4 linked regions of the Homo sapiens genome follow. The protein of the gene in region 4 interacts with the protein of the main gene of each other region in a pairwise test. Each region holds a gene or a part of one and is shown on either strand. Other genes may lie near its edges.

Region 1 (5,919 bases), on a different chromosome or scaffold from region 4:
GCTCCCCCCAGACCAGGGCTGACCTGCACTCTTCTTGACCTCGACCTTAGCCTTTTTCAGCCGCTTCAGCATGCCCCGGAGGTCGGTGATGCCATACTGGAAGGCGATTTTCTCGTACTCGCTCTTCTTTGCCCCTTTCAGGAGCTCCCAAATCTCCGGGGGGATGCCTAGGTCATCGTCATCTTTCTTTTTCTTCTTCTTCTCCTCCTCCACCACCTCCCTGGCGGGTGGGGGAACGGACAGGGGCCATCAGGGAGTGAGGAAGGGAGGATGTCCCTCTGCCTTCTTCACTCATTGGCTCTGTGACTCACCCAAGCCACCTTCCCTTTAGGGGTCTTATTGTTTCCCGCCTGGTCCATTGCCCCAGCCTCCTCCTGGGGTCTTCTGACCTCTTCCCAGCACAGTCCCCACTGGGTTTTTTGGTTTTTTTTTTTTTTGAGACAGATTCTCACTCTGTCTCCCAGGCTGGAGTGCAGTGGCGTGATCTCGGCTCACTACAACCTCCACCTCCTGGGTTCAGGCGATTCTTCTGCCTCAGCCTCCCGAGTAGCTGGGACTACAGGCTCACGCCACCACCCCTGGCTAATTTTTGTATTTTAGTAGAAACAGGGTTTTGCCATGTTGGACAGGCTGGTCTCGAATTCCTGACCTTAAGTGATCCACCCGCCTCAGCCTCCCAAAGTGCTGGGATTACAGGTGTGAGCCACCATGCCTGGTCCGCAGAGTATTTCTTTTCATTTATTTATTTATTTATTTATTTATTTATTTATTTATTTTATTTCCACAGGTTATTGGGAAACAGGTGGTGTTTGGTTACATGAGTAAGCTGTTTGGTAGTGATTTGTGAGATTTTGGTACACCCATCACCCAAGCAGCATACATTGCACCCTATTTGTCCTCTTTTATCCTGTGGGGTATTTCTGACACCCACATCAGTGGTTCTCCCTTTCATGTTCAGAACTCTTCTGTGGCTCCCCACTGCCCTCAGGAGGAAGCCCCAGCCCTCCGCCTGGCCATCACACCCCAGCTACTTCCGTCACTCCCCCCAAAGTCACCTGAACCAAGCTGCTTGACTTTTGCTGAACACTTCAGGCTCTCTCCTGCTTCCCAGCCTTTGCACAAAATGTTTCCCTACCTTCATGACCTCTCCCTACCTTCTCTTCCTCCCAGACTCCTCTTCATCCTACAAGACCTAGCACCAAAGTTCCCTTCTCCCTGAGGCATTCCGTGTCCTACAAGACAGTGAGTTGCTCGTGCTCTGGGCTCTCACAGGCCCCGGTGGGACCCTCTCTAAAATCACACCAAATAGTCTCAGTCTGTATCTATGTCTGTTGGACAAGACCCATTTCCCAAGGCAATGAGTGATCTCACATCAGGGACCCAGTCAGACTGTTCTCTCTCCCTGGATCTCAGCCCAGGACCTAGTAGACGGGAGGCCTCAGAAGATGGTTGATGGGTGAGAGAGTGAGTGAATGCATGGATCTCAGCCCAGGACCTAGTAGACGGGAGGCCTCAGAAGATGGTTGATGGGTGAGAGAGTGAGTGAATGCATGGATCTCAGCCCAGGACCTAGTAGACGGGAGGCCTCAGAAGATGGTTGATGGGTGAGAGAGTGAGTGAATGCATGGATGGAGCTTGGGAGGGAAGGAAGGAAGGGAAAGGAACAAAGAGAGGATAGATGTGGAGGTGAATGTGGGGACATGAATATTTGAATTGATGTACAGAATGGTGAGTAAGTGGGCTGATAAGTAGGTGGGTGGGTCAGTGGAAGGGTGGGTGGGAAGAGAGGCAGATGAGTTGGGGGAAGACAGGTGGGTGGGTGGATGGATTGATGGGTTGGGGGAAGACGGGTGAGTGGATGGATTGATGGGTTGGGGGAAGACAGGTGGGTGGGTGGATGGATTGATGGGTTGGGGGAAGACAGGTGGGTGGGTGGATGGATTGATGGGTTGGGGGAAGACAGGTGGGTGGGTGGATGGATTGATGGGTTGGGGGAAGACAGGTGGGTGAGTGGATGGATTGATGGGTTGGTGAGAAATGACTGCGCAGTTGGGTGAATATGTTGATGAGAAGTGGCCAAGGAAGTGGCTGGCTGGCTGCAGACAGAATTGATCAGTAAATGGAATTGTCAGGGATATAGTTATGGGGATTGATGGGCAAGTGAAGATGGATAAGTGGGCCAGCAGATAATGCATATGAGATTGCCGATATTTAATTTTTTGTGGTTGTTGTTTTTGAAACAGTCTCACTCTGTTGCCCAGACTGGAGTGCAGTGGCGCGATCATGGCTCACTGCAGCCTTGATCTCCTGGGCTCAAACGATCCTCCTCCCTCAGCCTCCTAAGTAGTTAGGACCACAGACACATGCCACCATGCCCTGCTAATTTTTCTTTTTTTTGTAGAGTCAGGGTCTCCCTATGTGGCCCAGGCTGGTCTTACACTCCTGGGCTCATGTGATCTTCCCACACTGGTCTCCAAAAGTGCTGGGATTATAGGCGTGAACCACTGCACCCAGACTTCAATCATTTTTTACCTGCAGAACATCAATTTTACATAGTTCAATCTAACAGAGGGCTATCTGTGTGGATGGGCGTGTCAACTGCCCACCTCTTCACTGGTGAACTCAGCCACCTATTCATGAACCCATCCATTCATCGTCCACCCACCCCATCCATCCATCCGCTTCCCCACCTACTGAGGCACCCATCCTCCCACCTCTCCACCATGCATTCATCCGTACCATCCACCCACCTTCCCACCTGTCTATCTGCACCTGCATCTCCCAACCAAATCCAACATCCCATTCACCCGTTATCCATCCACCTACCCATGTAGCTAGGCTGACTGTAATGGCAGATGGGCAGGTAAACAGGTGGGAAAATGGTGGTTAACGGATGGATATGTGGGTAGATAGATTGGCAACTGGGCAGGTAGGTGGATAGATGTATTAGTAGATACATAAATAGGCCACTGGTTGGATGGATGGGTGAGTGAATGGATCAGTGGGTGGAAAGTGGAGGGATGGAGGGATGGATGGATGGGAGGGTGAGTAGGTGGAGGCATAGGTGAACTAGAGCCTGAGTGAACAGCAGAGTGGGTGTGAGAATGGTGGGTTAAGGGGTGAGAAGGTGGGTGAACTCATGGCAGATGTTTGGCTGGGTGGGGTTGTGGGTAGGGGTCTGGGTAAATGGGTAGGTGGGTGGATGAACAGGCAGCCTGATGGGTTGGTGTGTTAGATGCTGGGTGGGCAGGGAGTGAACAGATGGAGGTGGTAGAGGGATAAGCAGTGGGTCCAGGAGGAATCAGTGGGCCATGGAGCTTCACCCACCACCTCCTCCCCTTGAGTCCCATCTCCCCTCTCTGTGCCAAGTCCGGGGCTCACCTCTTCTTCAACAGGCCACTGAAATCCAGCTCACCTGCAGTATCCGACTTCTTTTCACTCCTGTGGCCATTGAGAGGGCATGTGAGTCTTGACCCTTCAGATTCACCCCTTGCCTTCCCCAATCCTCCCTTTTTCCCCTTCCAAGGGAGAGCCTCCCATGGTCCTTGGGACCCTGGTAAGGGCCTGGGGTCACTTACGTACGCTTGAAGCTTTCTAGACTCTGCCCAGAGGCATCCTGACGGGGTGCTGGGGAGAGGTGATGAGAGAAGGGAAGGTGAGTTAGAGGCCAGGGCTGATCTTAGACTGAGAGCCCCTCTCCAGGCCTGCACAACCTCTTCCAGGCCCCCTTTTCTCCATCTCTTGGACCAGCACAACCTTGCTCAGGCCTGGGCATCCTCTAGTTCTAGACCAGCTCATACTCATTTCCCCAGCTGCCAAGCTCCACCCTCTCTCAGCAGCCTATACCCCCCACACCTGGGCCACCATGTCTTTCTCCCCAGGCCTGGACAATCTCATTTCCTGTGCACCCCACATTTAAGCCCTCACACATTCTGGGCTGCAGACCCCCAGAGCCCATACACCCTCAGGGGCCCATATATGTGCCCTCAAATCCGTGTAACCTCCTGTTAATCCTGTACACCCTCACTCTAAACCCCTACATCCTTCTTCTCTAAACCTGGACACCCTCACTTCCCAAGCCGTTTTGCCTACTTTCTTAAACGTGGAATGTGCATAACTCACCTCCTAAGCCTTTGCATGTGCATCCCAAGACCCTGTACACTTTCACCCCCGAAATCCAGACCTCCTCCCATGCTATGTCTCCTTGAGTTTGAATACTCTGACCCCAGAATCTGCACTCCCTCCTCCAAAAACCTGTGCCCACCTCATGCCCATGCCTGTGCACTCTCCCAACACCTGGCTGGTACATCTGTCCACCCCACCCAGACATAGAACCCTTTGCTCCCGCATCCCCCACCAGCATACCCTCCACATCGATGTTGAAGCCACAGCTGTCACAGGTGTCCTTGGCTTTGACCTCGAGGCGGTAATACCCACGGTCCCCCAGTACCACCTTCCCAATGTGCAGCTCCACGGTGTACACCTGGGTCCAGGGCCGGGGGTGTGGGTGCACGGGACCACCCTCTAGAGCCACCCCATATTCCTCAGAGTCCACTCATAGCTCTATCTCCACGTCCTCACCCCCACCCCACAGGGGGGCCAATGGAGACCGAGAGGGGTCTCAGCACCTGGTGGCCAGCTCTGTCTCCTCATATCTGACCCATCAGGACTTCTGGGGCCCAGGTCCCTGGCCCCCTCAGGCCTTGCCAGGAATGTACATGACCAAGCCCTAATGCATCCCCACCCAACCCCAGGCATCCTCCCTCTGCTTCACACAACCTCTCCCCAGCAGCCCCGCACAACCTCCATCCTCAGAGGGCCCACTCTCCATCCCGGCTCCAGGCCCACATTGATGCCTCAGGCAACAGGGCTTCTGAGGAGCATGTCCTGCACAAGCTCCACTCCCCTCCACCAGCCCTCTGGCCCACGGGGTCCTCACATTGCTGGCGGAGTTGTGGGACTCCTTGAAGGAGAAGCGGGCGCCACTCTTGCTGCCCAGCTCCAGCCACTTCCCCTTGAACCACTTGATGGTCGGTTTGTCTGGGAGCTCCTTCCCGTTCACCTTGGCCACGACCACTGCGTCCTTCCCTACATGGGGTGAGTGACAGGGTAGAGTGGGAGGAGGCCCAGGAAGGAACATAAGGCTCTCCAGAGGGAGACAGAACGAGACCCTGGCCCCTCCTCCCTCAGACCCAGGAGTCCGGGCCGCAGCCCCTCCTCCCCCGGGTTCCCCTCACCAGTCTCCACTGAGACGGAGTCCGGCTTCTTCAGGAAAACGCCGGTGGGCTCCTCTGCAGTCGGGGACTGGTCCTCGGGTGGGGCTTCTGTTCAGGGGACAGGATTAGGATGAGGAGGTCTGAGATAGGCTGGGGAGGGGACAGTGGGCCGCTTTGGGGAAAGGACTTAGAGACAGTGAGGGCCCCTCTACTCAGAAACCAAACATCATGGGGGTTAAATGGCTTTTCCTGACCTGGGAAAGGCCACCTGTCACCCTCGTGGCTGTGTGACCTTGGCCAGGCTCCCTCACCCCTTTGGGCCTCGGTTTCCTCATCTGTGGACTGGAGGGCACTGAATGTGCCTTTGGGGCGGGAGAGGTTTAGAGAGACCGGGGCCGGACCTGGTGATCAATCAGCCAGCTGACCGGAGCCGATGCCAGCCGAGGGGCTGGGCTCTGCCTGCGGGTGCCAGGGAGCCCCGGGAGGGCTGGGAGCACGGGAGGCGTGGGTCAGCCCTGGGGCTGTGCGGGGACAGATTCAAGGATAGAGGCTGGGGAAAGGCCTGGAGAGGCGTAGCGAGGAGGATGGAGATGAGAAGCCAGGTCGGTTGAGCCCGAGGGAGCACCTCCTCACCTTTGGGGGCCTCTGCAGGAGCCTCCTTAGGGGGAGCCTCCTTGGGGGCTCCTTTGGGGGCATCTTTGCC
Region 2 (5,919 bases), on a different chromosome or scaffold from region 4:
GGAAACAAGAACACTCTGATCCAGCATATGTCAGAATTTGGGAAAAAGAGGCTTGGCACAGTGGCTCACGCCTGTAATCCCAGCACTTTGGGAGGCTGAAGTGGGCAGATCACTTGAGGTCAGGAGTTCAGGATGAGCCTGACCAACACGGTGAAACCCCGTCTCTACTAAAAATACAAAAATTAGTTGGGTGTGGTGGCATGTGCCTGTAATCCCAGCTACTCAGGAGGCGGAGGCAGGAGAATCACTTGAACCTGGGAGGCAGAGGTTGCGAGAAGCCGAGATCGCACCTTAGCCTGGGTGGACAGAGCAAGACTCTGTCTCAAAAACAAAACAAAACAACAACAAAAAAAGAATTTGGGAAAAACAATAGGGCTTTCTAGGTTTTAGAGACCTTAGACAGTCTCAAGGCATCTTTCCAAGAAGGGTCTCTCTGCATATCAAATCTACAAAGACCACATTCTAATTATACACTTTAGAAACTTCTGTGAATTTCCTTTAGCAAATTATTATTTTACCTATTATTTTGAAAATGCTGTAGAATCACCCAGAGAAGGGCAGAAAAGTAAGGGAAGAAAGGTGAATCAGGAAGATTTCTAAAGTCCTAGTTCTACAACTAAAGCATTAGACGATTAAGGAAGCCCTTGATATTCTCTCAGAACTTTCAGTGACCTTCTGCCTCCTACAGACTTCGAGGAAGAGGGCTGTACCTTTAACCAGAATGGGAGCCGGTGTTCTTCTCTCTCTATAGGTGGCTTCCACTGATGTGGCTGGATCTCTTCACAGCATTTTCCTAGGACTGGCAGCTGTTTGGTCTTCTTATAAAACTTAACATGAAAAAAATGCGCATGAATTACATTCCTTCTGGAAACACTGTCCCCTGTCAGGCTGGTGAATGGGGTGGTGGTGGATCAAGAGAAACACACACACACACACACACACACACACAAGACCACATACACAAACATCCATGAACGCACATATATAAATAGCATATGCTGAATACTTGTACATTTCAAATTAAACTAATCTCTATTTAAATATTTCACAATTATTCAATATTTTCTAACTGATGATCTCCATTCTGGTTGCCAGGAAGGGGAGAGTTTAGGTCACAGAGAGAAAAGGAAGCAGATGCTCAGAGCAATCTTATGTAAGATTTGTTCTTGATCAACAGCTGCAAAGACAACATCGTAATCTATACCTTGGACACATGAAAGCTTCCTTTTAAGCAAATGGTGGTGTGAAAGGCATTAGAAGAGAAGGGGGGAAAAAAAGAGCCTGAGAAAGTTCAATTTTAAGAGTAAATGAAGGTTGGGCGTGGTGGTTCATGCCTATAATCCCAGCACTTTCGGAGGTGGGCAGATTACCTAAGGTCAGGAGTTCAAGACCAGACTGGCCAACATGGCAAAACCCCTATTCCTACAAAAATACAAAAATTAGCCAGGCATGGTGGCACGCACCTGTAATCCCAGCTACTCAGCGGGCTGAGGCAGGAGAATTGCTTGAACCTGGGAGGTGGAGGTTGAGGTGAGCTGAGATCAGAGACAGTGCCACTGCACTCCAGCCTGGGTGACACAGTGAGACTCCGTCTCAAAAAAAAAAAAAAAGAATAGGCCAGGCGCAGTGGCTCACCTTGTAATCCCAGCACTTTGGGAGGTTGAGGTGGGCAGATCACGAGGTCAGGAGATTGAGACCATCCTGGCTAACATGGTGAAACCCCGTCTCTACTAAAAAATACAAAAAATTAGCCAGGCGTGGTGGCTGGTGCCTGTAGTCCCAGCTACTCAGGAGGCTCAGGCAGGAGAATGGCATGAACCTGGGAGGCGGAGCTTGCAGTGAGCCGAGATCACACCACTGCACTCCAGCCTGGATGACACAGCAAGACTCCATCTCAAAAAAAAAAAAAAAAATTGAGACAGGTCTCACTTTTTTGCCCAGGCTGGTCTTGAACTCCTGGGCTCAAGTAATTCTCCCACCTTGGCCTCCCAAAGTGCTGGGATTATAGGCGTGAGCCACGGCCCCATTTAACTCTTGAATATTCATGTAACACCTGTTTCTCCCAACCTCTGATAGCATGTAAGATTTTTCCTTTGGCTCCAATGTTTTGAAAATTCATGATAATATGGCTTAGAATTTGTCTAGTTTCATCCGTGGTGCTAAGGCACTTGATAAACCGTATTCTGCTGCAGAAAAATCTTTTTCCTTCACGTTTGAGTTGTGTGTCATTTTCTGTGCACATCTTTGTACTTTTTGTTTGTTTCTCTGCTTCTTGATCTTTGAGACAGAGACTCCTCTGTCGCCCAGGCTGGAGTGCAGGGGAGTGATCCACGCTTACTGAACCTCTGTCTCCCTAGTTCAAGTGAGTTTTGTGCCTCAGCCTCCCGAGTGGCTGGGATTACAGGTGAGTGGCACCATACCTGGTCAATTTTTGTATTTTTAGTAGAGACGGGGTTTCACCATATTGCCCAGGCTGGTCTTGAACTCCTGGCCTCAGGTCATCTGCCTGCCTCAGCCTCCCAAAGACCTGGGATTACAGGCCTGAGCCACCGTGTACGGCCTCAATTTTTAAAAATTTAGAAAAAAATTAAAATAAAAAATGCTACTAGAATGTGTTTCACTAAAGGAAGGAAGTAAAACAAAAACACAGATGTAGAATTCAGGAAATAAGAAGATCCAACACAGTAAGAGGCAAAAAGAATTCCCAGGATGATGGGGAGGAAAAAGCCCAAAACATCAGTGCAGCAAGCCCAGAGAGCAACACGCTTAGAGTGGAATAGTGTCAGAGGGCTCAAGGAGCAATTCCTTCAAGATGAAAGTGACGGAATATCTAGAAGGCCAGACACGCTGAAAGGAGATTAAGAAAATTTAAGTAACCTTTACTGTTGACCTGGGAATAATTACATAATAAAATCAAGTCCAGCCCCATCCCCCTAAAAATGCGATTATTTACTCCAAGAAAAACAAAATGTTCAGCAGGAAAGGCAAGGTATCACAATAACATAGCTGTGAAGAGTATTTATACAGTCCTTAAAATCTTATAGTGTAAACCCTGAATACAACCTAACCAAAATTGTGACATAATTACTAGCGAGGAGATTGGAGAGCAGAAAATGTGCATGTTTGTGGTGGGAGTAAGGGAGTGAGGAGACAGGTAAATCCTCAGCTTCCTTGGCTTATGGTTAATGGTTAATAAATAAGGCCTAAATCCAATATACCAGGAAGTAGCAATTAGAGGCTGAGACAGGAGAATGCCTAAGGCCAAAAATTCGAGACCAGCCTGGGCAATATAGGGACACTCCATTTCTTAAAAAAAAAAAAAAAAAAAAAAAAAAAAAAAAAAATTAATAGGCAAGCATGGTGGCTCATGCATATAATCCCCAGCTCCTTGGGAGGCTGAGGTGGGAGGAATGCTTGAGCCCAGTAGCTGGAGCTTACAGTGAGCTATGACTGTACCACTGTACTCCAGCCTGGGTAGCAGAGTAAGACCCTTTCTCAAGAAAAAAACAAAAACAAAACAAAACAAAAGGCTGGGCATAGTGGCTCACGCCTGTAATCCCAACACTTTGGGAGGCCAAGCTGAGGCAGGCGGACTGACACATGTCAAAACTTCAAGACCAGTCTGGGCAACAAAGTGACACAGCATCTCCACACAAAATAAAATAATGAGCTAGCCTTGGTGGAACACGCCTGTAGTCCAGGATACTTGGAAGGCTAAAGTGGAAGGATCACTTGAACCCAGGAGTTTGAGGCTACAGTGACCTATGACTGAGCCAATGCACTCCAAACAGGATGATAGAGCAAGAACCCGTCTCTAAAAACACAACATAAATATCTAAATAAAAAAGAAGAAACCAGGTGCGGTGGCTCATGCCTGTAATCCCAGCACCTTGGGAGGCCAAGGCGGGTGGATCACTTGAGGTCAGAGGTTCAAGACCAGCCTGGCCAACATGGTGAAACCTCATCTCTACTGAAAATACAAAAATTAGCCAGGTGTGGTGGTGCATGCCTGTAATCCAAGCTACTTGGGACGCTGAGGCAGGAGACACCGAGGCAGGAGAATCGCTTGAACCTGGGAGGTAAAGACTGCAGTGAGCCAAGATTGCGCCACTCTACTCAAGCCTGAGTGACAGAGCAAGAGTCTGTCTAACAACAACAACAACAAAAAGCAAATAAGTGGAATACTGCCAGCGGAATATTGCCCAAAAGGCAATAGGGGAATTAATCTAGTGTAAAGTGGGAGAAATTAGCTTTAGATAAAAGAAGGTTCCTCTTTTCTTTGAGAATAACAAGATAAAAGAATGGGTACATATTGGTGAGGTGCCCGGATGGCGCATGCAGGAAACACTCACTTTAATGATGTTGTCAGGAGCTCTGTTCATGTTGAGGTTCTTGATTCTCACTGTCAGTTGGTGGGCAGTTTTGCAGGTTAGAAGGTACTTGCTGATTAGAGGATTAGGAAACTCAGTTCCTTCAAAATGCTTCAGTCCTAAAGCTAACAAACTGAGAAAGGAGAATAACACTAAATCTCACTTCACAGTCCTTCCTTCTAAAGGGTCTCCCCAGACTAACACATTTTACAATCTACTCTTTCATTTTTTTCTTGAGACAAGGTCTCACGCTGTCACCCAGGCTGGAGTGCAGTGGCACCATCGCAGCTCACTGCAACCTCTACTTCCTAGGCTGAAGCAATTCTCCAGTCTCAGCCTCCCAAAGTGCTGGGATTACAGGCATGAGCCATGGTGTGTGGCCCAATCTACCTTTTCATTTTTTTTCAGACAGGGTCTTGCTCTGTTGCCCGGGTTGGAGAGCGGGTGGCATGATTACAGCGCACTGCAGCCTTGAATGCCTGGGCTCAAGCGATTCCCGTACTTCATCCTCCCAAGTATCTGTGACCACAGACGTTCACCACCATGCCGGGCTAATTTTTTTCTTCCATTATTTGTAGAGACCAGTTCTCACTATGTTGCCTGGGCTAATCTTAAACTCCTGGCCTCAAGCGATCCTCCTGCCTCAGCCTCTCAAAGTGCTGGTATTACAGTTGTAAGCCCACCATGCCTGGTCAATCTACTTTTTGTAAATCTAATTCTTGTACAAGTTGGTGACTACTCAACAGAAAATTTCAGATACTTAGTGAGTACTGATTAAGTATTATGAATAAGAATAAGGCCAGGCGCAATGGCTCACGCCTGTAATCCCAGCATTTTGGGATGCCGAAGCAGGCAGATCACCTGAGTCAGGAGTTCGAGACCAGCCTGGCCAACATGGTGAAACCTCGTCTCTACTAAAAATACAAAAAATAGCCAGGTGTAGTGGTAGGTGCCTGTAATGCCAGCTACTTGGTCAGGAGAATCACTTGAAACCGGGGGCGAAGGTTGCAGTGAGCCGAGATCGCACCATTGCACTCCAGCCTGGGTGACAAAAGTGAAACTCTGTTTAAAAAAAAAAAATCAAATACTTCACAATTATGTGGGAACATAAGAAACTAGGCATAAATCATTAATAAACGTGAGATCATGATGAGCTGTATCATGACGAGCTGTATACTAACAATACAAAGGAAGTTCAAAGAGAATAGAAAGGAAGGAGAATAATTCTAATAAAACTAATACAAAATGAATAGGTACCCTGTCAGACAACTTAAACCGGCACCAATACTACCCTCTAACAACATATATGATCGTGGTTACATATACACATATGTGCTGATAACAGTGTGGCAATACACACAAAGGGCCATAAAAATGTTCATAATCTGGTGGGTGTGGTGGCTCATGCCTGTAATCCCAGCACTTTGGGAGGCCAAGGTGGGAGGATGCCTTGAGTCCAGGAGTTTGAGAGATGCCTGGATAACACAGAGAGACCCTCATCTCTACAAAAAAAAAAAAAAAAATTTAGCCATGTATGGTGGCACACGCC
Region 3 (5,448 bases), on a different chromosome or scaffold from region 4:
GTCCTAGATTCACATGGGTCAGAGGCTCCTCTGAGGAAAACAAAATATTGCACCATTAGGTCGGATCCAAATAGACTGTATGCCAGAGATGCTATAAAATTATATTAGAAGTGGGGAGTAGAGGGTAGTGTTGCCAGAGTTACCAAACAGAAATACAAGATGGCCAACTACTTCTGAATTTTCAGTTATGCAAGTTTGTTTGTTTTTTGAGACAGAGTCTCACTCTGTCGCCCAGGCTGGAGTGCAATGGCGTGATCTTGGCTCACCACAACCTCTGCCTCAACCTCTTGAGCTCAAGGGATCCTCCTGCCTCAGCCCCAACACCCTCCGAGTAGCTGAGACCACAGGTGTGAGCCGCCATGCCCAGCATCCCCTATTATATCTGGCAACCTTAGTAGAGAAGATACTTAGAAGGAAAACAAGCTTTCAAAGAGCTTCAGAATGGAATGAGAGCGGATACCTTTCTACAACTCAGTGAGTAGAAAAAAGCACATAGCTTTATAGATAGAAAAAATCTGAGATCACCCAAACCACACAGCTCAGGAAGTGGTCCCACAGGTAATGACCAAGTCAGGAAAGAAGATTTCCACAGGCCCCACTCAGACCAAATCTCTTTCCAGCAGGTTGTTCTGTCTTAACGTGAACTTTGGCAGAATTAAATCTTAGATTTCAACACACAGATTTTTAACAACCTACCCTGAAATCTCAAACCAAGTTTTGAGGCTTTAATTCCTTGGAAAATACTGTCGAGTCTAGCTCAGTGGTCCCCAAGCTTTTTGGCACCAGGGACCGGTTTCATAAAGACAATTTTCCCAAGGACAGAGGGAGGAAAATGGTTTTGGGATGAAACTGCCACCTCAGATCATCAGGGACTAGATTCTCACAAGGAGCATGCAACCCAGATCCCTCACACGCGCAATCGCACCTATGAGAATCTAACGCCGAGTGGAGCTCACGTGATAATGTTCACTCACCCGCCGCTCACCTCCTGCTGTGATGCCCGGTTCCTAACAGGCCACGTAACAGAAGGTTTAGTGCCGGTCCTAGGCCTGGGGGTCGGGGACCCCTGGTCTGGCTGTATTCCATGTGGCAAGTTATCTTGGCTGGTGACAAATGAGTCCAGGGCTAAGCCTCAAATGAACCAATTAACTGAAGTCTCCCTGGGCCCAAACTAATTTTGGTGTCAGTGGTCACAGCAAGAAAGTGTGCTTACAACAATGCAAATCCAACGCTGCAGCTCGAAACAACTCAAATTCAATGATTAAGCCACCATCCACGATGGGCTGCAGAAGAGTAGACTTTATGAGTACCTGTAGCATTAATGGCTTCTAGAAAGTACCGAATGCCCTAGTACACCAATTCTCAACTCGAGGGTCCACAGGCCTCCTTGCTGCACTGAGCACCTCAGTGAGAGCACATCACAAGCTCTGCTGCACTGGAGTAGAGAGGAAGGTGAAACCCCGAGCAGAAGTACTGTTCTGCCCCCAAGCCAATCACCTGAAGACAGCTTTTGCCTTTCTTAAGACCTGAATATATAAACTGATAACTTTAGAAAACAAAAACTGCTGGGGGAAATTTTTTTTTTTTTTTTTTTTTTTTTTTTTTTTTTTTTTTTACAATTTTTTCCTTTTTTTGAGATGGAGTCTCGCTCTGTTGCCCAGACTGGAGTGCAGTGGCGCGATCTGAGCTCACTGCAAGCTCCGCCTCCCGGGTTTAAGCCATTCTCCTGCCTCAGCCTCCCGAGTAGCTGGAACTACAGGCACCCGCCACCACGCCTGGCTAATTTTTTTTTTTTTTAGTAGAGACGGGGTTTCACCGTGTTAGCCAGGATGGTCTCGATCCCCTAATGTCGTGATCCGACCGCCTCAGCCTCCCAAAGTGCTGGGATTACAGGCATGAGCCACCACGCTGGGCCATCAACTCCATTCTTGAGCTCCATCTTTTCCACAGTCAGGCAGGCTTTCAAGCGAACTGTACTTGACAAATGCAGAGCAATTAAATTCTTTATTATAAAAATCTCAAAAATGTCCACCTTTACTGGAGACCAATCTTCTAAAAGGTCAAAAGCAATCCTGCTGTTTCTCTCTGAAAGCTAAACTCCTTTAAATGAGAATACGAGAATACCCAGAATTTTATTCCCAGCCTTTGTGTGGAAAAGGCAGTTTGCATTCTTAGGAAACATCTAACTGTTACCTAAACCATAAATATTTCTATCTACTCCATTCAACCCAATTAAAGAAAACAAAATGATGAGAAAAATAGGAGCCGAACAGAAAGAAAATTCACATCATTTTCTACTATTACGAACATTCAAATGGTGCTTCAAATTAAATACTTTTAATTATCATTCTAGCCAGGATCATACTAAGTAGGATCTCATGACAGTCACATATGCAGCGACTTCACCTAAACCGTGGCACTGAATGCTCTGCCATGAGCCACAAGCAGCACAGTGATCATCACCCACAAGGACAGGTTGCTGGGATGAGGCACCCTTTCCTTTCATGTTTAGGTTCTTCTCACCTGCATTTCACTTTCCTAAAGGTCCCAGCCACACAGCGTTCTTTTAGGGATTAAAGTAGTAGGAAAAAAATAAAGAGAACACAACATCCATCCTTAAAGAAAAAAAGTAAATCCACTTTATGGTGGACTTCAGCTATGGACAAATTTGGGATCAGTGTTCTCCAGTCTGAACATAGTCTTCTGTTACCTGGGAGAGAGTGGTCAGGTACTGCCAGCTCAGGGCAGCCAAAAGCATGACAAACGACAGGTAGATGGGGGAGTAGTGGCTTCGGGAAATCAGCTGACAGTTGGGAAGATTCTGCGTCCGGATGGTGGAGATGATCTGCCTTGTTTTGCTAGAAGATGGGTCTGAGTCGGGGATTCTATGATAAATCTGTTAAAGACACAGGAAAAAATGATAAGTGCTATGTGCTTTACATTTTCCATGGCTACTTACAACAACCCTCCACTGGCAGGTATTTTATACCCATTTTACCAATGAGGAAAGGGAGGCTCAGAGAACATGAACATAACTTACCCAAAGCCATCCCAATGATAAGGTGGGGATGTCAGCCCCAGCTCATCTCAAAGCCTGTCTTCCTGAGCAAACAGGAGGCACAGGTGTGCATACTGCACCCAGAGGCCCTCGAGAGCAGCGGCTGAGCCACAATGATCTTCACATCCCCAGCACCTCACAGTGCCAGGCCCAATAAACGTCACCATAGTTCACGTAGACAGGCACAGACTAACATGACGAAAGGGAAATGCTGGAAAGACTGGGCAAAAGCAGCTTAGAAACAAGATGGAACACGCAGTACAGACCACAGCTTGACAAAGGGGGACAGGAACAGAAGCAGGGAGCCGTATGAACCACCCTGGAGTCCTCCCTGTGCCTCCCTCCCCACTCCTCCACAAGCCTCCCAAGTATGTGCAGAATCCATCTCTTCCCCTACATCCCTAAAATTACTGCCTGAGATTAGGCCCTGAGTGCCTCTCAGATGAGCTATCTCAGTCTCCAACGTGAGTCTAAGCTTAAATTCCCAAATCTACCTGTCTGCTCTACACTGTCACCAAGGAGATCTCAAACCTCTGCTTGATGCCTCAGTGGCACCAGCCCTCTCACCTGGAGAAAAAAAGCCTGAGCTCTGTAATGTGTAGCGCAAGGCCACCCATGGTCCAGACCTACTGCACCTGTCTAGTGTCACCAGCCCTTGCCCACCTCCCTCTCTACAGTCTAGTAACAGTTGCCGGGCCAGGCACAGTGGCTCATGTTTGGAATCCCAGCACTTCAGGAGGCTGAGGCACGTAGACTGCTTAAGCTCAGGCGTTTAAGACCAGCCTGGACAACACAGTAAAACCCTGTTTCTACAAAATGTACAAAAATTAGCCGGGCATCGTGGCATGCACCTGTGGTCCCCCAGCTACTTGGGGACTGGGGTGGGAAGATCACTTGAGCCTGGGAGGTGGAGGTTGCAGTGATCCGAGATCATGCCACTGCACTCCAGCCTGGATGACAGAACAAGACCCTGTCTCAAAAAACAAACAAAAACAAAAGAACAACTGTCTACTGTTGTTTCGCCCATGCGATGCTGCTGCACACCTCTGTTCCAGTCTCATACCACTCCTTCTCTCTGGAATGCGCCTCCCACGTCCCTTCAACTGGCTCCTACCTAGGCCCCCAAGTCTCAACTTCAGGATTATGCCTTCTAGAAAACCTGTCTGCAGCTCCAGGTTCAGCCAGGAGCCACCCTATTGTACATACCTTTACCTTTCCACTTACGTGGAAATGGACCATCTGTAGTTTTCACCCTGACTACACCGCACCTACTTACTCACCTTTTTATCTCCAGCCTAGCCCTGTGCTGGCACACAGCAAGCGTGCATCCCTGGCTAATTTTTGCATTTTTAATAGAGACAAGGTTTTACCAGTGTTGGTCAGGCTGGTCTCAAACTCCAGACCTCAAGTGATCCACCCACCTCGGCCTCCCAAAGGGCTGGGATTACAGGCGTGAGCCACTCCACCCAGCCAAGACTTTTCAATACAAGCATCCATAAAGTAAAATATATAGTGATGAGATAATTCTATTAGAAGTCATCCTTCTGCCTGCCCATGTTGCTTTACTGCTTGTCTTAGCCTTCCTCCTAAAAGCAGAACCTGAGGCAAAAGCTTGCATGCAGCCATTTATTTGGAAACGAGTGGAGAAGTGAAACAGAAGGCAGGAAGGCCTATCAAGGATGTGTTGAGTTGGCTTGATCTTGAGGGACCTTCAAGGAGCCTTATGAAAGGTGGCCCTGAGGAGCAGAGAGGTGGCCCTCACCTCCTCTGGGTTGTGGGGACCCACGTGCCAGGCAGTTCCTGCAGCTCGTCAGAAGCCCAAGGGCAGGAAGCGAGAGGTCTCTGGAGCAGAAGGCAAGGTCCAGCCCTACTTGGAAACTGGTTGCTACAGCAGTGGCCGAAGGCCAAGATGAGTGGCAGTGACACACAGGGTCTCACACACTACTCTTGTAAATGACCTGAGTGCCCTGATGCCATCAAAAGCCATAAAATAGGCATTCACTACAATGACCCTGAGAATAGTTTCTCAGGTAAGTAATGGTTTTGGTATATTGTAGATTTTTTTTTTTTTTTAAGATGGTGTCTCGCTCTGTCACCCAGGCTAGAGTGCAGTGGTGCAATCTTGGCTCACTGCAGCCTCCACTTCCCAGGTTCATGCGATTCTCCTGCCTCAGCCTCCCAAGTAGGTGGGATTACAGGCACCTGCCACCATGCCCAACTAACTTTTGTATTTTTTTTTTTTTTTTTTTTTTTTAGTAGAGACAGGGTTTCATCACATAAGTCAGGCTGGTTTCGCACTCCTGACCTCAAGTGATCCGCCTGCCTCAGCCTCCCAAAGTGCTGAGATTAGAGGCATCAGCCACCATGCTCGGTGACATTTCACTTTTGAA
Region 4 (5,919 bases):
AAGCCCCCCTCAGGGGCATCTCGGTTCCGGGACACCCTCTGTTTCCGAACTTCCTCATTGAAGCTGTCCACTCTGTCTGTGAGAGGCAGCAGATGGCGGAACCCAAAGGAGGGGACGCAATTTGGAAACAACTTGTAACTAGAGAGGAAGAAGAGAAGAGTCACTTTTCCATCATTGTCTGTAAATCTTAACCAAGTGTTCTGAGCATTCACTGAGTGCCTTGAGAGGCACCAATAACTATTTACCCAGCACCTACCACATGCCCCAGGACAGGCACAGCAGAGAGAGCAAAGATAAATAACATAGTTCCTGTTCTCCAAACATCAGCCCTAAACTGCAGGCAAGGCAGTATATGCCAAGTTATAAATGAATGGTATGGACAAATTGTTCAAAGGAAACAGAGATAATAGTAGGCTACTGTGGTTGGAGGAAGACTTGACATAGGCATTGAAAGGTATGTGGGACCCGGGGTGTGGGCCAGCCTAGGCAGAGTGGAGAGGAAGTGTCCTCTGGGCTAAGGAACATGGATGATGCCCAGTGAGGGCAATGTAAGTGCAGTTACTCCATGCAACCAGCTTCTACATCAATGTTGCTGCCACGCAACAAAGGATCACAGGATCACATAATCTTGTCATGTCAATCCACTCAGTGACCAGGATGTGCAGGCACATGGACAAATGCTGAATGGAACAGGAATGAAAACATCTTATCTGCTTCTTCATTCGTTTCTAAATATTGTACCAACAAACTATCAATTCTGCTAAATGCAATAAAAATTATTTAGAAACTAAGCATCTTCAAATGGAAAGTTATGTCTGGAAATTACAAAAGAAGGAAGTATTACACATCAATAATAGGTTAATACCAAGCCTTTCTCCTGAAATATGGGGTGATCTCCTTTTCAGTCTCCTGTGGAGACTCCAAGTGGCCCTATTCCTGAAGGGAGTTACTTTCCATTACAGCTCTAAGAGTTTCAGCTTGATCTAGAACTAATAAAGTTGGAAGAGAGAGCTTATATTGTTTTACCAATGGGTTCACAAAGTAAAGGGAAGAGGGGAGAGTGTCCCAGCCAGAGAAGAGCATGTGCAAGAGTCCTGTGGCAGAAGGGAGCACAGAGCCCAAGGACAGAGGGAGGTCGGGGGGCTGTGGTGCAGAGTAACGGGTGAGGATGGGCGAGGAGGAGCCTGGGAGGCAGGCTGGGCCAGACTGTGCAGGGTCTCCAGCCATGTTAAGGAAGTCGCTCTTTCAGGATAAATGATGGAAAACGAGCACTAACAGGCCTGAGGGAAAGGCTTTATAATCTAATTCAAGCTGCATACATGGGAAAGAAAACAGCCTTAGCAACAGCTAGGAGGACCCTGCCTTAAATGCTGTCAAAAAGCAGACTCACCAGGGCAGGTCTGGGCAGGCTCCCTTCTGTAAAGGGGCAATCTTTGGTTCTCTAAGGGGCTATTCCATTCCCTCTCAGGGCTACAGTCCCTTCTCCATCCACACAGTCACAACAGCACAGCACAGAGTCCCCAGCAACAGGCCCACCCTGCACAGAATCAATCAGCCCCACTCCTGTGATAGTCGCGCTCTCCCTCTCGGGGCCGGCGGCAGCGATGGGATCTCCCTGCCTGGCTTTCCTTTGTGTTTCTCCCTTCTCCTTTCCCGAAGTCTTCATGAACACCTTGTACTTGGACAGGTGGAACTCTCTTTTAACCTCAGCCTCGGGCCACCCAAACTTTCCATTACCTCCTCATTTTGTCATGAAAAGAACAATCATGGAAATTACATTCCCAGCTGGAAGAAGGAACTGAGGTCCCATCTGTAGCTATTTGGCAAGTGGATCATAGGCCCAGAAGGAAGTAAGTCTATCCAAACTCTCCCCCTCTCTCTTCCTCCAAGATCCTGCCCTGGCCTATGTGGCTCTGGCCCATGATTTAGGACTTCAGGTGTGTGGTTTTTTTACACTTGGTCCGGTTGGTTGCGGACAGGGAGAAAAGAAACTGAATAATGATTGCTGTTTAACCAGGAAAGCTGTGACAAACTCAGCTACAGCTCAGCATGTTTTACCTCCTCCCTTTCACTCCCGCAAACAGCAATGAGCAGATACATTTTTACTGCAAAGAATGACTGTTAAGTAGTTAGGAATTAGAAGATGTGTTTGCCAGAGAGAAGCCTTCATTGTAGAGAATTTACTATAACCAAGTCAGAGTCACTTAGGAAAAGAGCTTTGTCACACAGACGCTAGGAGAGTCTCCACTGACACTGGAATAGGATGTCACCTGTGATGAGTTATCTGACTTAACCCCAGAGCAGCTGTCTGAGTGGCCTGAAGATCCGGACGTTCTGGGGTCATGCCAGGAGACTATCCTACCCCTCTCATGTGTCTGTGCTGTGAGACCCCAAATAAGCGCCATGCATACAGAGTTACTAAATTAAGGATTATTAACAAGGGAGATAAAAAATAAAATATATATGGTTAAAGAGCCAAGGGAGTGTCTGTATGTATAAAAAGTGAATCCAATTTGAAGACACCAGACCTAGGCAAATCCAGAAAACAATCTAATGCCTCAGGAGAATATCATGGATCAAGCTGACATGGAAAGGCTCTCCATGTCATGGAACAGGAATGAAAACATCTTATCTGCTTCTTCTAACTCTAAACATATACAACTGCTGGATAAAATGTAATTTAAAATTTTTTAATATATAGCCTAGGCTGGAAGCTTAGAAAGTAAATCCCAGAAACGAAGAGGAAACCATTCAATAAATGAATGGACCTTTCAGAAGTATTTGGTTTTGGCAAAAAAAAAAAAAAAAAAAAAAAAAAAGAAAACACCAAAAAACAAATGAATGGACTTAAAAGAATAGGTGGGGGCTGGGTGCAGTGGCTCACGCCTGTAATCTCAGCACTTTAGGAGGCTGAGGCAGGCAGATCACCTGAGGTCAGGAGTTCAAGACCAGCCTGGCCAACGTGGTGAAACGCCATCTCTACTAAAAATACAAAAATTAGCTGGGCATGGTGGTGGGCACCTGTAATCCCAGCTACTCAGGAGGCTGAGTCAGGATAATCACTTGAACCCAGGAGGTGGAGGTTGCAGTGAGCTGAGATCCCGCCACTGCACTCCAGCCTGAGTAACAGAGCAAGACTCGGTCTCAAAAAAAAAAGGTAGGAAATGGGCAGGCACTCATGCCAAGGACCCCCGCAATGGGTCAGGCCTTGACTGAGGCCCTACAGGCTTGGAGCAGGGTCTACCAGGAATAGATGCTGAGCCTCAGTCCTGCAGAGGGCTGAACACTGGAATAGGGCTGTCTGCATAAAGCCGAACAGCACAATGAGCTGCTGTGCTACTAAAACCAGAAACAGAAAAACTCCAGCTACTGGTCTAGGAAAGCAGCACGGAAGCTGACCATCTACCATGAATGAGATGAATTACCCATAAAAACTGTAACTCCAGGCCTGAGCAATTGGAATACACTGCTTTTATGGTGAAGACATCTCCATTTGAAAAATTAACAGAAAAACTAGTCCCACGGTGAACCTGGAGATTCTCGACAACGGCAAACATAAAACTGCTCTGCAGGGATGCCCCCACAACCTCCAAGGAAGAGCTAATGAAAAGCTTATAAATTGCATGAAAAACAATTCATGAAGGCATGTCAGCAGGTCCAATACACTGACTGGCTGTGGATCCACCTGAAGGATCCACAATTCAAGAAACAGAAACAGAATAATTTAAAATACTTTAGGCTGGGCGTGGTGGCCCACCCCTGTAATCTCAGCACTTTGGGAAGCTGAGGTGGGTGGATCACCTGAGGTCAGGAGCTCAAGACCAGCCTGGCCAACATGGTGAAACCCCATCTCTACTAAAAAATACAAAAATTAGCTGGGTGTGGTGGCACGTGCCTGTAATACCAGCTACTCAGGAGGCTGAGGCAGGAGAATCACTTGAACCCAGGAGACACAGGATGCCGTGCTGCCTGGACGTGGGGAGACAAAGCTCGGCCTGCTCACCAAGCCACAGTGTGCCCCCACGCTGCGTGTGCCTCCCCAGCTCAGAGAAGAGAGCTTCACATAACTCAGGCCCGAGGTTTCCTTCCACATTCTCATTCTTCACTGGACTTCCTGCCTTACAAGTAGCTTTTCAGTGTGCCTTGTACTCACTGTCAGGAGTTTTACTGTCTGCAACAGGCTCTGCCTTAGAGGACTTAGAGAGTGAGCTCTGAATAAGTAATGATGTGTCATAACTTTGAATATTTAAATGCTGAGCGCCTAGAGCCAGCCCTTGATTCTCTGCCAGCTTCCAATCTAGTGTCTCGGTCAGTGGAAGGGCCTTGGAAGAATGAAAGTGGGGACACACCCTATCTGTCTGGAGACAGGGCCCAATTAGGACAGAGGTGAAAAGAAGCAAATAAAATCACTATTTCAGATGAATTGAAAAAAGGCTTAAGGCTTGCAGTTAAGATGCTGTTGCTCCTGGTAAGCAGCAAAATTTCAACAAAAACATTTGACACCCAGACTTAGCTGAAAAGGGCCTTGGAGACAGAATCAAAGTAGTAATAGTCCCTGTGGCCACCTGTCGCCAGGAGGAAGCTAAACCCAGCAAATGATGATGCCTAGTGCCTCTTCGTGGTTAAAGAATTTAGAGTTCATTTGTATTTAAAACTTTTTCTTGTCTGTTTTTCCACCAGTGTCAGTTCCCAATACCTGAAAAGATCTAAGTCAGCTTCTGGGAGAGTATACAGAAGGATCTGGAGGGATTCAGAAGAGCCTATGCCACCAGCACACTAACTTGCTCCTATCACCCAGCCCAACTTGGAGCTAGGAGCTCTGAAGGCTACCAAAGAGGACTTGTGGAGAGGGGAGGGCTCAGGGATTTAAGAACAGCTCTCTCCCCTTGGTGGCAGCTGGAAGACCAAGAATTGAGAATGGCATCACAAGATGGAAGGAGCTGGATCCCTGAGTTACTGCATGGAGAGCTGCCAAGGAAAGCAGCTCAGCCCTCATCAGATGTTGCACAAGCAAAAAAAAAAAAAACCAACAAAAAAAAAACGTTCATTGTGTTGAGCCACTGAGATTTGGAGACTCTACGTTACTGCAGCATAACCTACCATGATCCTCAGGTAAGCCCCTAGGACATGGGGGTAGGGTGGTTTAGGGACAGGTATTATTACTCAGCCTAAGGTAAAGTGTCTGTGTTGTAGTGTGATTTGAATGGGGAAGAAGACATTATATTAAACGCAAACGCAGGCCGGATGCAGTGGCTCATGCCTGTAATCCCAGCACTTTGGGAGGCTGAGGTGGATGGGTCGCTTGACGTCAGGAGTTCAAGACCAGCCTGGCCAACATGGTGAAACCCCATCTCTACTAAAAATACAAAAATCAGCCAGGTGTGGTGGCAGGCACCTATAATCTCAGCTACTCAGGAGACTGGGGCAGGAGAATCGGCTTGAACCCGGGAGGCGGAGGTTGCAGGGAGCCGAGATTGCACCACTGCACTCCAGCCTGGGCAACAGAGCAAGACTCCGTCTCAAAAAAAAATGCAAATGCAGACTCTAAAAGTAGTTTGTCTGTATTCATATTCCAGCTCTACCCCTTGCTGTTTGTATAATATTGGGTAAGTTATTCTCTCTAGGCCTCAGTTTCTGCATCTCTAAAATCTGGCTTACACTTACCTTAGAGACCTCAACAGATTGTTATGAGATTTAAATGAGATAATCCACAGAAAATATTTAGTATGGGGCTTGACACTTAGTAAAAACTTAAGTCTTAGTTATTTCCTATCTCATGACTAGTTTTGGACCTTACAACACAAACCCTCACTAAAGTTAAATGTGGAGATGAGGAAAGCAAGAGTTGGAAGTTACCACTCACTGCAGTCACTTGCATAATCTTGACATTTAAAGAAACTCCTGAAAGACTAAAAAGAA

What was found.
Region 1: the proteins of ITGB5 (region 4) and MYBPC2 interact in a two-hybrid assay, tested with the Homo sapiens proteins (one large-scale study listed by BioGRID and IntAct).
Region 2: the proteins of ITGB5 (region 4) and GON4L interact in a two-hybrid assay, tested with the Homo sapiens proteins (one large-scale study listed by BioGRID and IntAct).
Region 3: the proteins of ITGB5 (region 4) and FDFT1 interact in a two-hybrid assay, tested with the Homo sapiens proteins (one large-scale study listed by BioGRID and IntAct).

What each region holds. Positions count from the first base shown.
Region 1 is NC_000019.10:50,435,181-50,441,099, reverse strand, and holds part of MYBPC2 (myosin-binding protein C, fast-type), read right to left. Parts: coding exon 5,850-5,919; intron 5,325-5,849; coding exon 5,238-5,324; intron 5,089-5,237; coding exon 4,940-5,088; intron 4,484-4,939; coding exon 4,366-4,483; intron 3,628-4,365; coding exon 3,579-3,627; intron 3,442-3,578; coding exon 3,382-3,441; intron 221-3,381; coding exon 24-220; intron 1-23. UniProt on the Homo sapiens protein: Thick filament-associated protein located in the crossbridge region of vertebrate striated muscle a bands. In vitro it binds MHC, F-actin and native thin filaments, and modifies the activity of actin-activated myosin ATPase.
Region 2 is NC_000001.11:155,766,715-155,772,633, forward strand, and holds part of GON4L (GON-4-like protein), read right to left. Parts: intron 4,504-5,919; coding exon 4,353-4,503; intron 828-4,352; coding exon 711-827; intron 1-710. UniProt on the Homo sapiens protein: Has transcriptional repressor activity, probably as part of a complex with YY1, SIN3A and HDAC1. Required for B cell lymphopoiesis.
Region 3 is NC_000008.11:11,835,836-11,841,283, reverse strand, and holds the end of FDFT1 (squalene synthase), read right to left. Parts: intron 2,897-5,448; coding exon 2,675-2,896; 3' UTR 1,986-2,674; downstream 1-1,985. UniProt on the Homo sapiens protein: Catalyzes the condensation of 2 farnesyl pyrophosphate (FPP) moieties to form squalene. Proceeds in two distinct steps.
Region 4 is NC_000003.12:124,841,414-124,847,332, forward strand, and holds part of ITGB5 (integrin beta-5 isoform a precursor), read right to left. Parts: intron 139-5,919; coding exon 1-138.